2 linked regions of the Homo sapiens genome follow. The protein of the gene in region 1 binds, or shares a complex with, the protein of each later gene. Each region holds a gene or a part of one and is shown in the gene's direction. Other genes may lie near its edges.

Region 1 (7,495 bases):
GATATGATAATAGGGACACATCCTAGTCCTTCAGGTCCTAAGATGAATAAACCTCAAGGAATCTACCTATGTATAATACAAGTAGGTATAGTGAAGATGGTTGGCATTGCCAAGTTGCTAGCCATATTTTTGGCTATAACAATTTCTCTAACTGAACTCTAAACCCCAACCTCTTTTGAGTCTTTCAAGTTCTAGAAACTTATTCCTGGCTGGATGCAGTGGCTCACACCTGTAATCCCAGCACTTTGGGAGGCTGAGGCAGGAGGATCACTTATGTCAGTTTAAGACCCACCAGGGCAACATAGTGAGACCCTGTCTCTACAAAAAATGAAAAATAAAAAATTATCCAGGAGTTATGGTGCATGCCTGTAGTCCTAGCTACTCGGGAGGCTGAGGTGGGAGAATATGGGGAGGATTGCTTGAGCCCAGGAGTTTGGGGCTGTAGTGAGCTATGATGGCACCACTGCATTCCAGCATGAGCAGCAGAGTAAGACCATCATCTCAAAAAAGAAAGAAAAAAAGAAAGAAAGAAACTTAACAGTTCACCTGATCAATAGACACAAGCCAAAACCACACCTTCCATGCAAGTTAGACTTTGGAATAGACTGCCTGTGTCACTTAAATCTGAACCTACACTTTCTAAGTTAACTGGACCTTGAAAGTTTGCCTATTCTTTTCTTCTTTAACTTTAGAACAATCTGTACCTTCTCTTCTTTTCTTCTTCAACTTCAGAACAACCTGTACCTTCTTGGTTCTGAAACTTTACTCTGAACATTAAAATGTTCAGAGTAATTTGTAAGTAAGTTAATGGCTTAGAACGCTTGCATTCTGAGAGGCAGCTACCATTACATCACCCATCAATGTAAACCGTAAACATTCCTCATGTTACAGAAGGTCTCAGTGTCCACAGAATTCTGGCAACAAATGGGTTGTTGTTGTCTCAGAAAAGCCCTAGGGGCCTGCCAACATCAACTTCTTTGTCTCAGGAACCTGCCCTTCCTGGTTCCAGTGCTAGATCTTGGGTGATAGGTGGACAAGCTAGACTGGGAGAGCCCAGAGAAACTAATCGCACTGAGGAGGGTGGTAGAGGTGAGGCGGATGCTAGGCTCAGGTCCAACAGCAAAAGGAAGAAGGAGTCCACAAAGGAAGGGAGACCTCACATAATAACATAATGCCAGAGATAGATGGGCAGGTGACTAACTTCAGGGAGGGCCAGTCATGAGGAAAAAGCAGAAAAACCTACAAGGAGATTGACAAGCACACAAAGCAATCAGAAAGCTAACCAGGTAGGCAGTTGGTATAGGAAGGACAGAAGCTAATCCTCAGCAAGTGGAGATCCAACACTGAAGCTGAATTGAGAACTGGCTGTCTTGGTGAGACTGATGTCAGCAGTGCCAAACCAGGTCTGAGAGGCAATGGTACACACCAGGAGACAAAGCAGACACCCAGCATGGAATAGAGAGCCCAGCTCTAGTCCTCCAAACAATGACTATGGCAAAGTAGAATCAATGGTCACAGTTTGATACCGCTGTTTGCCAGTACCTATGTGTGTGAAAAGATATTTTCTGACTAAATAAGTAAAAATCTCATTACTGATCAGCACAATGAACATCTATAATCAATTTGGAGATGAGAAACCTGATGTGATGACTCCTGTGGTGTAGCAATTGTTTTCTACTGAACGATCAGCATTCCTAAGGTTGTCTCTGGTTCATGGAAGACTGTTTCTCTTACTTTGTCTCAAGTACAGAAATATTCCCTAGTAGTGTTAGATTTCTAGGAGCCCTTTCTTGTTCATTTTGAAACTCAGAAATCTTTGGATTTCCAAACATTTTCCAGGTTTTCATAGGCTCTTCTCATTTTTAGTGTACTCATGAGGGCCTCATTTATGACTCAAATTCTAGAGATGTCTCCAGAAGAGACATTATAAAACAACCATGCTGCCTGGGCTCTCCGAGGTAGAGCTCAGTGTCACAGTGCTCCCACGGTGCCCATCCATGAAGCAGAAGGTACAGGCCACGTACTGTTTACATCTCTGAAACCTGGCATGAACCAAGTTATTTCCCCAAACCTTTAAACTCCTCTCTGCCGTGTCAACTCCGTGGTGGCAGGAACTAGGTCAGTTTGAGCTTACAGTCTTGTTCTAGTGTCTAGCACAGTGGCCAACACCTAGAAGACATTCAATGAACACTTGCTGAATAAATTTTGTAACGGTTTCAGAAATAACATTAGAAGTATAAGCTACCACATACATAAATGTCCAGTGAACCCAACTGTTATAAATTATAATAACTTTACTAGGTATAACTTTGTAGGTGTTCCAAATCTTTCTCTACATCCAGCATTCCAGAAATAGCTATTACCTCAGAGGAAGTCTTGTCCATAAAATAAAGGCACTTCAGATGTTTTTATTCTACCCAAAGTAATGAATAATGACTGAGCACCACCAAGTACCAGACTTTATGCCAGGTGTTAGGAAATGCAGGCATGTTTAATTTCTGTATCTACTCTAAAGAGCTTTAGTCTAGTTGAAGAAGTAGACATTTTAAACCATAATATAGTGTAATCTGTGCAATACTAGTAGTGCTAATAAAGTGCCAGGAGGAAAGAGGAAGAAATACAAATTTTTCTACAGAAAGGGATTTAGAAAGATATCTACGTGAGTTTGCTCAGACTGCTGTGAATAGCATACTATAAACTGGGGTGATTCGAGTCTCAGCAAACTGAACGCTGAGAACTCAGGCTTCTTGTTCCTTTTGGCTGCAAGAAGGTTGGCAGCCAGTCAGAACTTTACCCACTTGTAAGAGATCAGGCTTCTTGTTCCTTTTGGCTGCAAGAAGGTTGGCAGCCAGTCAGAACTTTACCCACTTGTAAGAGATTAGATGTATCTTCCTTGGTGATTCAGACCAGCCTAAGGGGAAAGACCTGATGATACCAACTTTGGGGATTCTCCAAGAAACAATGTCCCCAGAACACACTATAAAGATGCTCAAAGTTGATAAGCCCTGCCCAGCTGCTCAGAGTTTCCAGTTGGCTCTTTAGTCCCCCACTCTAAATCCTGATAGGACAAGGATGGAACAAGAAGCCTGAATTCTCAGCTTTCAGTTTGCTCAGACTCAAATTACCCCCCAGTTTATAGTATGCTGTTCACAGCAATCTAAGCAAACTCCCCTAGGTATCTTTCTAAATTCCTTTCTGTAGAAAAATTTGTATTTCCTCCTTTTCTCCCTGGCACTTTATTAGCATCACTAGTATTGCACATATCACACTCTATTATGGTTTAAAATGTCTATGTCTTCAACTAAGCTAAAGCTCTTTAGAGTAGATACATGGGCCCTAACCTGACTGATGTCCTTCTAGGAAGAGAAAATTACGACACAGACATGTACAAAGGGAAGACCATGTGAAGACACAAGGAGAAGAAGGTCATCTACAAGCCAAGGACAGAGGCCTCTATAGAAACTAACCCTATCAACCTCAACCTCAGACTTCCAGCCTCCAGAATTACAAGAAAAGAAATTTCTGTTGTTTAAGCCACCCAGTCTGTGGTATTTTGTTATGGCAACCCTAGCAAACAATACCCTAAGCCTAACTTTTCAAGTTTTTCTCCAGCAGGAAATCTGAATTATTTCTTTTCAGCTTTTAGTAGCTATTGTGTGGACAACATGGTTGCATGTGCATATTAAAGTTGTTAGAAAACTAAATTTATGCCAGGTCAGACACTTGTATAACAAAACCATGAATGGGGAGTCATCAGCTCATCACTTAGCAGCTACAAAGGAGTAGTTCATGCTTAGCAGTTTGTGGCATTTCACAACCGTCAAAGAAGTGAAAGGCCTTTGGATGTCTATGACTCTCATCAACAATTTTCTTTATGAGGCAAAGAAAGCTGATCATTCAAGACATAACAGATGTTTTAGGGGTTGGTGATGATGGTGGCATATGAAGAAAAACACATACTCTCAACAATATAATAGCAAATAGAATCTAGCAATATATTAAAAAGGATAATATATTATGACCAAGTAGCATTTATACCATAGAAGCAAAATTGGTTTGGCATTCAAAAGTCAATCAATTACATTTGCACTGAGGTTATCATAGCTGAGAAGACACCGTCTCTGTGGCTTCAGCTCCTGGCTGCAGGCCGCTGATGGAGGTCCAGAAGGTCAGCTGCTCACAGACATCAACTTGGTGTCGGCTGCGGCTCCAGCATTTTCCGCAGGCTGCAGCTTCTGGGTTCCAAACTTTTCATTTCTCAGTCTGCAAGCGGGTTAGCCCCGAACAGGAAGCAACTCCTTCTCCAGCCGGGAGGTGGCGGCCTGCGGTCGACGATGCCTCCGGGGTCCTTGGGCTCAAGGTTCCGTTTGGGGGCGCTCTCGTCCGGCTTGCGGGCCGCCCTTCTCCACAGACGGAACCTTCTGGTGGCGCCGCTGGTTTCTGCGGGGTTTGCAAACGGCGCGTACCGGGCCCTTCCCGTCTTCCGTACAGGTTCCTGCTGTTGGCTGGGCTCGGGAGGGAACGCTCCAGGTAAAGCGCTGGGGGAGGAAGCGACGCCGAGGAGCTACGGTTTCCTCCAGAGGTCTCCGCCCCTCTGCCCCTATATTCCCAGAGCTCGAGTCTGATCCGGGCCTTGCCGGGCACCCTGGAAAGGCGGGGGTGATAGTACAGATGGAGACGCAACTGCAGAGCATTTTCGAAGAGGTGGTGGTGAGTGCAGCTGCCGGCCATCCAGGACTACGGCTTGGGGACGGGGAGACGCGGGGGCAGCCGACCAAGGAAACTGGCCTGGGCAACCTCCTCTCACGCCTCCCTTTTTATTCCCTTGTTTTGACACCGAGGTTGTATGCGGGGAAGTTTAGTGATTCTCAAACTGCTGTCAAGTTCATTGTATCCTTTGAAATCGATACAGTGACAGGCCAGACAGGTATTGATAGTTTCAGAGCTGATTAAGGTGACTTGCCCTGTGTTACATTGTAATACTTGGCTAAGGGAGGCGCCTTTTTAAAATTAACATTGTTTACATTTTGTTTTTTTTTTTTTTACAGAAAACGGAAGTTATAGAAGAGGCTTTTCCTGGGTGAGTGTATGCGTGGCAGAGTTTTGTGTTTTTATGTGATTGTGTCTGTCAGATTTTACTTAGTTTCGTGTTGGAAGGTTATAAGATCCACTATTCTGATTGTGTGTAATTACCTTTTTAAAACGAATGACAAATAATGTAATTTTTATTTTTTTAGCATGTTTATGGATACTCCTGAAGATGAGAAAACAAAACTAATTAGCTGTTTGGGGGCCTTCAGACAGTTTTGGGGTGGTCTTTCTCAGGTGAGCGCTTCATTTTTAATACATTCAGCTGATGATTTTTGGCCTCTTCTTTTTTTTTTTTTTTTTCTTTTAACATTTACTTTCATGCTGCTCTTAAGATCTTCCTGAGAAGGGAGAAATAAAATTGTTATCATTTTTTATTCTGGCTTCCATTTGTTTTAATTTGTATATTTCAGTGGAAAACCTGTGTTGAGAAGTCAAGTTGATACTGCACAGTGTGAGATGTTTAAAAAAAAAAACCTCCCCTATGTTAGATTAATTGAGATCATTTTCATCCTATTCGGATTTATTTGGTACACTTGAAAACAGATATGTTAAGCTTTACTTGTCAAGGATACAAATTCCATTTTTCTGCTAAATAAAGGAATTGGCACAGCATTGATACAAAGATGCTACAATAGGAATACCAAGATTCTATAATAAGGATAGGAAAATATTATAGTAAAAATGAGGAGACAAACTGTAAAAGTAACAAAGAACAGCTACCAGAAAATGTATCCGTGAAAAAGACAAAAATGTGTCATCCTCGAAGAGCTCACATTGCAGTAGTGCCTTACCTTCTCATGGTACACTATAGGTAGGGAAATGAGAACTGTTTGCGTGTCAGCCACTGGTGATAAGATTTGCCACTCAGACATGGATCATATAATGCCAATACAGTCATGTTTTAACCTTTTTGTTTAGTTGTTTTCTAATAGGTAATACATTTATATGGTTCAAAATGCACAGGTATAAAAGGGTGGATCCAATAACTAGTCTCTTTCTCTTCTCTTACCTGTTATTTTTTCTGTCTGTAGCCAATATCCTCAGGTTATGTTTTCTTCTAGAAGTATTTTATGCATATAGAAACACTTTTATAGCATGATCATATACCATGTACACTGTTCATTAATTAGCACTTTTTTTCTCCTAATAATAATCTACAGGTAATTCCCTATCAGTCCAAGCGTTACTTGTTCCTTCCTTTCTTACTTTTTTTTTTAAATAGCAGCATAATATTCCATTGTATGGCTGTACCTTCCTCCTTTTAACCAATCTTCTACTGTCTTCTAAGTTTCTTCTTACTTTTTCTAATTTAACCAATGCTGTGATGAATAATATTATGCATGAAAAATAGGATAAATTCCTAGAAATAGTATTGCTGAGTCAAAAGCCTTATCAGTTTGTAATTTTTATAGAAATTATTAAATTTTCCATAAGGGTTATACTAGTTTATGCTTCCACCAGCAGTGTTTGAGATTATCTTTTTCTTTTCTTTTTTTTTTTTTTTTTTGGAGACAGAGTCTCACTCTGTCGCCCAGGCTAGAGTGCAGTGGCGTGATCTTGGCTCACTGCAACCTCTGCCTCTCGGGTTCACGCCGTTCTCCTGCCTCAGCCTCCCGAGTAGCTGGGACTACAGGCACCTGCTATCACGCCCGGCTCATTTTTTGTATTTTTAGTAGAGACGGGGTTTCATCGTGTTAGCCAGGTTGGTCTCGATCTCCCGACCTCATGATCTGCCCACCTCGGCCTCCCAAAGTGCTGGGATTACAGGCATGAGCCACCGCGCCCGGCTGAGAGTATCTTTTTCTTATAACCTCACAATAGAGTGTTAAGCTTTTTGATCTTTGCCAATCAAAAACATGAGAAATTTTATCTCAGTATAATTTTATTTTGCATTTCTCTCAGTGATGTTGAATATCTTTCCAAAATTTAAAAAAAAATTCATTAAACACTTTATGAATTATGATGTGGCCCTCTAATGGAGAGACCAGGAAGAAAATAGGTATTTCCAAATCATTGTTATATGTGCCACAATAGAAGTATGTATGAGAACAGTGGTTGTGGAGAGAAGCAGAACATTATAGGCTCTTTTTGGAGATAATCCTAGAAGACAAACTTTGATACGGGCACAACATTTTGACATCGTATTTAAAGTTTTGCCAGTCTAGAAATGTGACATGTCATTGGATTCATAATGGGCTCTTGTTTGGGATCTTAGGGATTGGATTCACACCTAATTCTCCTAAGCCTGATACATACTGATCCATAATGAATTTTACCCCCAGTGACAGTAATATTTATATATGCCATAAAGGGCACTGTTTACAATGCCTTACAACAATCTGTGTTAAGAGTTTTCTATTGACCGTTAATATGTTAACTAATTAATTACTACTTTTGAAGTTCC
Region 2 (7,026 bases), on another chromosome or scaffold:
GGAAGCCCCAGGCCTCTCTTGTTTTTGAGGAAGGGTCTCACTCTGTCACGCAGGCTGGAGTGCAGTGGCTCAGTCACGGCTCACTGCAGCCTCGACCTCCTGGGCTCAAGCTCAAGCGATCCTCCCATCTCAGCTTCCCGAGTAGCTGGAGTAGCAGGGACGGTAGCCAAATGCCAGCACACCTGGCTGATTTCTTAAAAATATTTTTGTAGGTCGGGCGTGGTGGCTCACGCCTGTAATCCCAGCACTTTGGGAGGCTGGGGCAGGTGGATCACCTGAGGTCAGGAGTTCGAGACCAGCCTGTCCAACATGGTGAAACCCTGCCTCTACTAAAAATACAAGCAATCATCCTGCCTTGACCTCCCTAAGTGCTGGAGTGCTGAAATTACAGGCCTTAGCTGGGCATGGTGGCGCATGCCTGTAATCCCAGCTCTTGGGAGGCTGAGGCAGGAGAATTGCTTGAACCTGGGAGGTGGAGGTTGCAGTGAGCCGAGATCACACCATTGCACTCCAGCCTGGGCAACAAGAGTGAAATTCTGTCTCAAAAAAAAAAAAAAAAAAAAATTTTGTAGTGGCGGGGCACGGTGGCTCATCCCTGTAATCCCAGCACTTTGGGAGGCCAAGGCGGGCGAATCACCTGAGGTCAGGAGTTCGAGACCAGCCTGGCCAACATGGTGAAACCCCGTCTCTACAAAAAATACAAAAATTGGGCAGGCGTGGTGGCTCACGCCTGTAATCCCAGCACTTTGGGAGGCTGAGGCGGGTGGATGATGAGGTCAGGAGATGGAGACCATCCTGGCTAACACGGTGAAACCCCGTCTCTACTAAAAATACAAAAATTTAACCGGGCGCGGTGGCAGGCACCTGCAGTCCCAGCTACTCGGGAGGCTGAGGCAGGAGAATGGCGTGAACCCAGGAGGCGGAGTTTGCAGTGAGCCAAGATTGCACCACTGCACTCCAGCCTGGGCAACAGAGCAAGACTCTGTCTCAAAAAAAAAAAAAAAAAAAAAACCATACAAAAATTAATCAGGTGTGGTGGCATGTGCCTTGTAATCCTAGCTACTCAGGAGGCTGAGGCAGGAGAATCACTTCAAGCCAGGAGGTGGAGAGATCGCACCACTGCGCTCCAGCTTGGGTGACTGACTGACTGAGACCCTGTCTCAAAAAAAAATTGTTTTTTTTGTGGAGACAAGGTCCTGCAATGTTGCCCAGGCTGGTTTTGAACTCCTGGTCTCAAGTGATCCTCCACTTCAGTGTCCCTAAGTGCTGGGATTAGAGGCATGAGATGCTGCACCCAGAGGCCCCACTAGGCTCTTTGTAATCAAGTCTTGGAAGTTACACGTCATGTCATTATTTCTGTTACATTCTTTTTTTTTTTTTTTTTTTTTTTTTGAGACAGAGTCTCGCTCTGTTGTCCAGGCTGAAGTGCAGTGGTGCGATCTCAGCTCACTGCAAGCTCCGCCTCCCGAGTTCACGCCATTCTCCTGCCTCAGCCTCCTGAGTAGCTGGGACTACAGGTGCCCGCCACCACACCCAGCTAATTTTTTGTATTTTTAGTAGAGACAGGGTTTCACTGTGTTAGCCGGGATGGTCTCGGTCTCCTGACCTTGTGATCCACCCGCCTCGGCCTCCCAAAGTGCTGGGATTACAGGCGTGAGCCACCGCGCCTGGCCTACATTCTGTTTTTTAACCTGAGACAGGGTCTTGCTCTGTTGCCCAGATTGGAGTGCAGTGGTGGGATCATAGCTTGCTGCAGCCTCGACCTCTCGGGCTCAAGTGATCCTCCCACCTCAGCCTCCTGAGTACCTAGGACTGCAGGTGGGCACCACCATGCATGGCTGATTTCTTTATTTTAATTCTTGTAGAGATGAGGTCTTGCTGTGTTGCTCAGACTGGTCTTGAACTCCTGGCCTCAAGCGATCCTCCTGCCTTGACCTCCCTAAGTGCTGGAGTGCTGAGATCACAGGCCTGAGCTGCGGTGCCAAGTCCACTTCTGCCATACTGCATTTGGTGTGCAGTATAAGCCTATCCCGTTCAGTGTAGGAGGAGACTACCCAGTGTGTAAATAGCAAGAGGCTGGATTGCTGGGTGCTGTATTGGGGGCTGGGTACCGCAACCTCACAGCGATGTTTGGAGAATTAAGTTAGTTGATGATGTTTAATACAGTGCCTGGCATGTATTAAGTGCCGTGTAAGTGTTTCCTAGGATTTTGTGCCTCACTCTCCTGGTTTGCAAATGGATAATGGTCGCGTGTATCTCCGTGTTGTTAGAAGATCACAGGAGCTAAGTTGCTTGCTGTGTGTCGCTTAGGGCCTGGTCTGCAGTCAAGGTTCATTAAACAACACCTGTTCGTAGCGGCCGTTACCTCTGTATGCTTCTGCAGCAGGTGTTTGTTGAGTATCTGCTTTGTTCCAGTATGTGCGTGCAAGTGCTGGGTGCAGGACATATAGTGAAAAGGTGACACAGAAGCTTCCCCTTCGCGGTAGCTGGAATTCGTAGGTAACACAGAGCAGGGTTTCTCATCCTTGGCCCTAGTGACACTGTGGACACAGTCATTCCTTGTAGTGGGGGCCGTCCTGGGTATTGTAGGATGTTTAACATCATCCTTGGCCTCTACTCACTAGATGCCGGTAGCCCCCTCCCAAAGGTGTGACAACCAAAAATGTCTCCAGGCATTATAAAATATCCTCTGGGAAGGGGGCGCAAAATGTATTCCATTTGAGACCACTGGGAGAGACCGGTAAGACAGTCTTGAGTGATGTTAAATGGAGACTTCTTGAGGCCCAGGTCCAAGTCTGATGCTCCTCAAGTGCCTGGCAGCCAGCACAGGGCCTGGTACACAGGAGGCCTCGGGTAAATTCTGTAGAATGAATGTCCAGAATGCATTTAATACTAACCACCCTGGAAGACACTGCATAGCCTTCCAGACCCAGCTCAGGTGTCTTATACCCTGGGAAACCTTCCCGATTCTTGCAGCCAGATGCTTCCTCCTCTGCCTCCATGACCTGTCACAGCCCCACACCTCTGGACTGTGAATGTCCAGGTCCCTGGGTGCTTCTGCCATTTGCTTCCAGCTGGGGCTTGGCACCCACGGGGCTTCAGGAGACTGGCTGAATAAATGAATTAGTATGTAATACAAAAACAACAAATAAATAGAAAAAATTAACCAGGCATGGTGGTGCACACCTGTAGTCCCAGCTACTCAGGAGGCTGAGGTAGGAGGATCAACTGAGACTGGGAGGCAGAGGTTGCAGTGAGCCGAGATTGTGCCACCGCACTCCAGCCTGGGTGAAAGAGCGAGACCCTGTCTCGGGAAAAAAAAAAAAAAAAAAGAGGTGGAAGGAAAATAGACCCAGTGTGTTTCCCATAACATTATGACAACTCAGTTGTTCATTCATATGTTCACTCATTAATTCAACAAATGTTTGTGGAACAAATCGTCCTGGGCACCAAGGAGTTAGTGGGCATGAGATAGGCAAGGTCCTGGCCCTCATGGAACTAGTTTGCCTGGGTGACAGGCCGTGTGTAGGGAGCCCTTGGTCATGGCCGGATGCTGTTAACATTCACTCATTTTGACCTCCTGGGGCTCCAGGCACCTGTTAGCCGATGAAAGCGGGCAGCAGAGACCCCGGGGAATGATACTGGGTAGAACAAATGGGAGTAAGTTAGAGGACTTGGGAACACCAAGTCAGAGCCCACTTGTGTCACCTAGGGGGCTTTTATTTTTATTTTGTGTCTGCCATATCAAGGGGTTTATTTGGAATTTATCATAAACTTGATATTTTAGCCATATTTTGCAGCCAGCCATAGTGCTTCTTCTGTTCAAGTTTTCCACATTTCTTTGACAAAATGTTTATTACATGTCGCCCTTTGAGCTTGTAGCACATGACTTGTACTTAGTGTTCAATAAGAGAAACGCAAGTTTTAGCATCTCAAACTGGTTAGTTTATCACACTTTTCCTCATAAGGGTTTTGTTTTGTTTTGTTTTGTTTGAGATGGAGTCTCTCTCTCTCTCCCAGGCTGGAGTGCAGTGGCATGATCTCAGCTCACTACAACCTCTGCCCCCGAGGTTCAAGTGATTCTCCTGCCTCAGCCTCCCGAGTAGCTGGGATTACACGTACCCACCACCATGTCTGGCTGGTTTTTGTATTTTTAGTAGAGATAGGGTTTCACTTTGGCCAGGTTGGTCTTGAACTCCTGACCTCAAGTGATCCGCCCACCTCGGCCTCCCAAAGTGCTGGGATTACAGGCATAAGCCATTGCACCCAGTCACTTCCAACTGTTTTACAGGGTCATGCCTGTAATTCCAGCACTTTGGGAGGGTGAGGAGGCGGATCACCTGAGGTCGGGAGTTCGAGACCAGCCCGACCAACATGGAGAAACCCTGTCTCTACTAAAAATACAAAATTAGCTGGGCGTGGTGCCGCATGCCTGTAATCCCAGCTACTCGGGAGGCTGAGGCAGGAGAATCACTTGAACCCAGAAGTCGAAGGTAGTGGTGAGCTGAGATCGTGCCATTGCACTCCAGCCTGGGCAACAAGAGCGAAACTCCATCTCAAAAAAAAAAATTTATCACCCCAAAGAGGACACCCCATATGCATGAAGCACTAGCTCCCCATTCCCCCATCCCCCCATCCCCAGCCAGGGTGGTTTTGGCTCGAGTCCCAGAAAGGCCCAGGAAAATATTGGCTTAATTTCACCTGTAGCAGAACAGCTGGGTCCAGAGTTGGTTCACCCCAACTCTTTGCACACAGTTGAAGTTTCTGCGTGCAAAGCTGTCTTGATGCCGGGCACAGTGGCTCACGCCTGTAATCCCAGCACTTTGGGAGGCCGAGGCGGGTGGATCATAAGGTCAGGAGTTCGAGACCATCCCGGATAACACCGTGAAACCCCGTCTCTACTTAAAAATTAAAAAAATTAGCCGGGCGTGGTGGCGGGCACCTGTGGTCCCAGCTACGAGGGAGGCTGAGGCAGGAGAATGGCGTGAATCCGGGAGGCGGAGCTTGCAGTGAGCGGAGATGTGCCTCTGCCCTCCAGCCTGGGAGACAGAGCGAGACTCCGTCTCAAAAACAAAAGCTGTTTTGATGGCTAGGAAGAGGAGGGCTGGGAAGTGTGTGGTGGGTTGGGAGCAGCGCCCGAGTGCCCTGAGAGCAGGAAGAAGGCTCAGGGGCTCAGTGTGCTCACTGGCCGGGCCGAGTGGGACTGGAAGGAAATCAGTGCGAGAACTCAGGCAGGAAGCGGAGAGCCCCGCTGCATGGCCCTGCCAGGCCACCAGTGCACTGAGTACTCAGCAGATGGTTCCTAGGCCTTGTGTGACCTAGGGTCAGACGCCTTGGTGTCTCTCTTGGAGGGCTGCACAGGGTGCGGAGAGAAGCTTGACAGCTGCAGTATCGGGTGATCTATGATGTGACTAAGGGCAGGCCGTAAAATTAGGTGGCATGTAGGGAAGGCTTCCTATAGGAGGGCACACCAGGATGGGTGTCGTAGTTTAGCTGGATTCCATCCGGGCCGGAATGGGTGTGTTCCAGCACATGCAGAGACCTGGATGTCTGGGCTTTGTCAGTTGAGAGGACCTATAGGTGCGGGCATGGAGCAGGAGAGATGGACGGGGTGCAGGACTCGGAGGCCTCGGATGCTGGGCCGATGCCGGGCCGAGGGCCTGGGTTGGTTCCAGTCTTGATGGACACGGTTGGGCCTGTAGACGTTCATTCACTTAGCCTACATTTCCTGAGGCCTCACATGTGCCCCGCTGTGGTGGGCAAGCCTGGGGGTAAGAGAGGACTCAGACCCCATCCCCGCCTGTGGGAGAGGTAGGATCAGAGACCACACTTCAGGGGGACAGGGCCCTCAAGACCCTCAGAGGGGTGCTCGGTCTCCACACACGTCCCCTGCAGCAAAGGTCAGCCTCTCACGACCACGTGACCGGAATAATGGTGGCAACCACAGCTGCCCTTGAGGAGAGGCCATCCCCGGGCCACAACCCATGTGGGACGGATGCTGCGACGCGACTGCAGATCAGGCGGAGGAGAAACGAGAGTCTGTGTGTGTTAGTTTCCCAGGCTGCCGTAGCAAAGTATGAGAAACTGGCCAGAAGAATGGAAATTGATGTCTCAGGGTTCTGGAGGCTGGAAGTCCAAAATCCAGGTGGTAGGGCCAGGCTGTCTCTGAAATCTTACAGGGGAAGGGCCCTTCTGCCTTTCCTGGTGCCTGCTGAGGCTGCATCACCCGTCCTCACATGGCCTCTCCCTGTGTCTCTCTGTGTCCTTGTGTCTTCCCTCTGTGTGTGTGTCCGTGTCCACGTTTCTCCTTTTCACAGACACCAGCCATAGTGGATTAGGGCCCGCAATTTAACTCGATTACCTGTGTAAAGATCTTTCCAAATTAGGTCACCTTCTGAGGTACTGGGGCTTAGGACCTCAACCTGTCTTTTTGAAGGGGGCACACTTGAACCCATAAGACTAGGAGGACAGAGGAGGCCCCCGTCTCTGGCTGGGAAGGTGAAGTGGGGCCAGGACTGATTTGGAGCAGACAGCCCAGAGAGGGGAGGGGACAGCAGGAGGCTGGGCATGGAGTCAGTCACTCCAGGGTTGGAGTCAGCACAGGATCCTAGGCTTGGGGTCCCCAGCCCTTTCCCATTCCCTCCCAGTCCTCATGATTAAAGACAACAAATGTCGGCCGGGTGTGGTGGCTCACTCCTGCAATCCCAGCACTTTGGGAGGCTGAGGCAAGTGGATCATGAGGTCAGGAGATGGAGACCATCCTGGCTAACATGGTGAAATCCCGTCTCTACTAAAAATACAAAAAATTAGCCAGGTGTGGTGGCAGGCACCTGTAGTCCCAGCTACTCGGGAGACTGAGGCAGGAGAATGGCATGAACCCAGGAAGCGGAGCTTGCAGTGAACTGAGATCATGCCACTGCATTCCAGCCTGGGCGACAGAGCGAGACTCCATCTCAAAAAAAAAAAAAAACACAGACAGCAAATGTCCCCTGTCCTGTCTGGGACTGGTGCTGTGCTAGCACCAGG

Evidence for each region. The genes of interacting proteins can lie anywhere in the genome.
Region 2: MED23 (region 1) and MED25 share a complex: the UniProt entries of both Homo sapiens proteins name them as parts of the mediator complex.

Annotation. Positions count from the first base shown.
Region 1 is NC_000006.12:131,625,226-131,632,720, reverse strand, and holds the start of MED23 (mediator of RNA polymerase II transcription subunit 23), read left to right. Parts: upstream 1-4,478; 5' UTR 4,479-4,671; coding exon 4,672-4,710; intron 4,711-5,048; coding exon 5,049-5,080; intron 5,081-5,237; coding exon 5,238-5,325; intron 5,326-7,495. UniProt on the Homo sapiens protein: Required for transcriptional activation subsequent to the assembly of the pre-initiation complex. Component of the Mediator complex, a coactivator involved in the regulated transcription of nearly all RNA polymerase II-dependent genes.
Region 2 is NC_000019.10:49,821,274-49,828,299, forward strand, and holds part of MED25 (mediator of RNA polymerase II transcription subunit 25), read left to right. Parts: intron 1-7,026. UniProt on the Homo sapiens protein: Component of the Mediator complex, a coactivator involved in the regulated transcription of nearly all RNA polymerase II-dependent genes.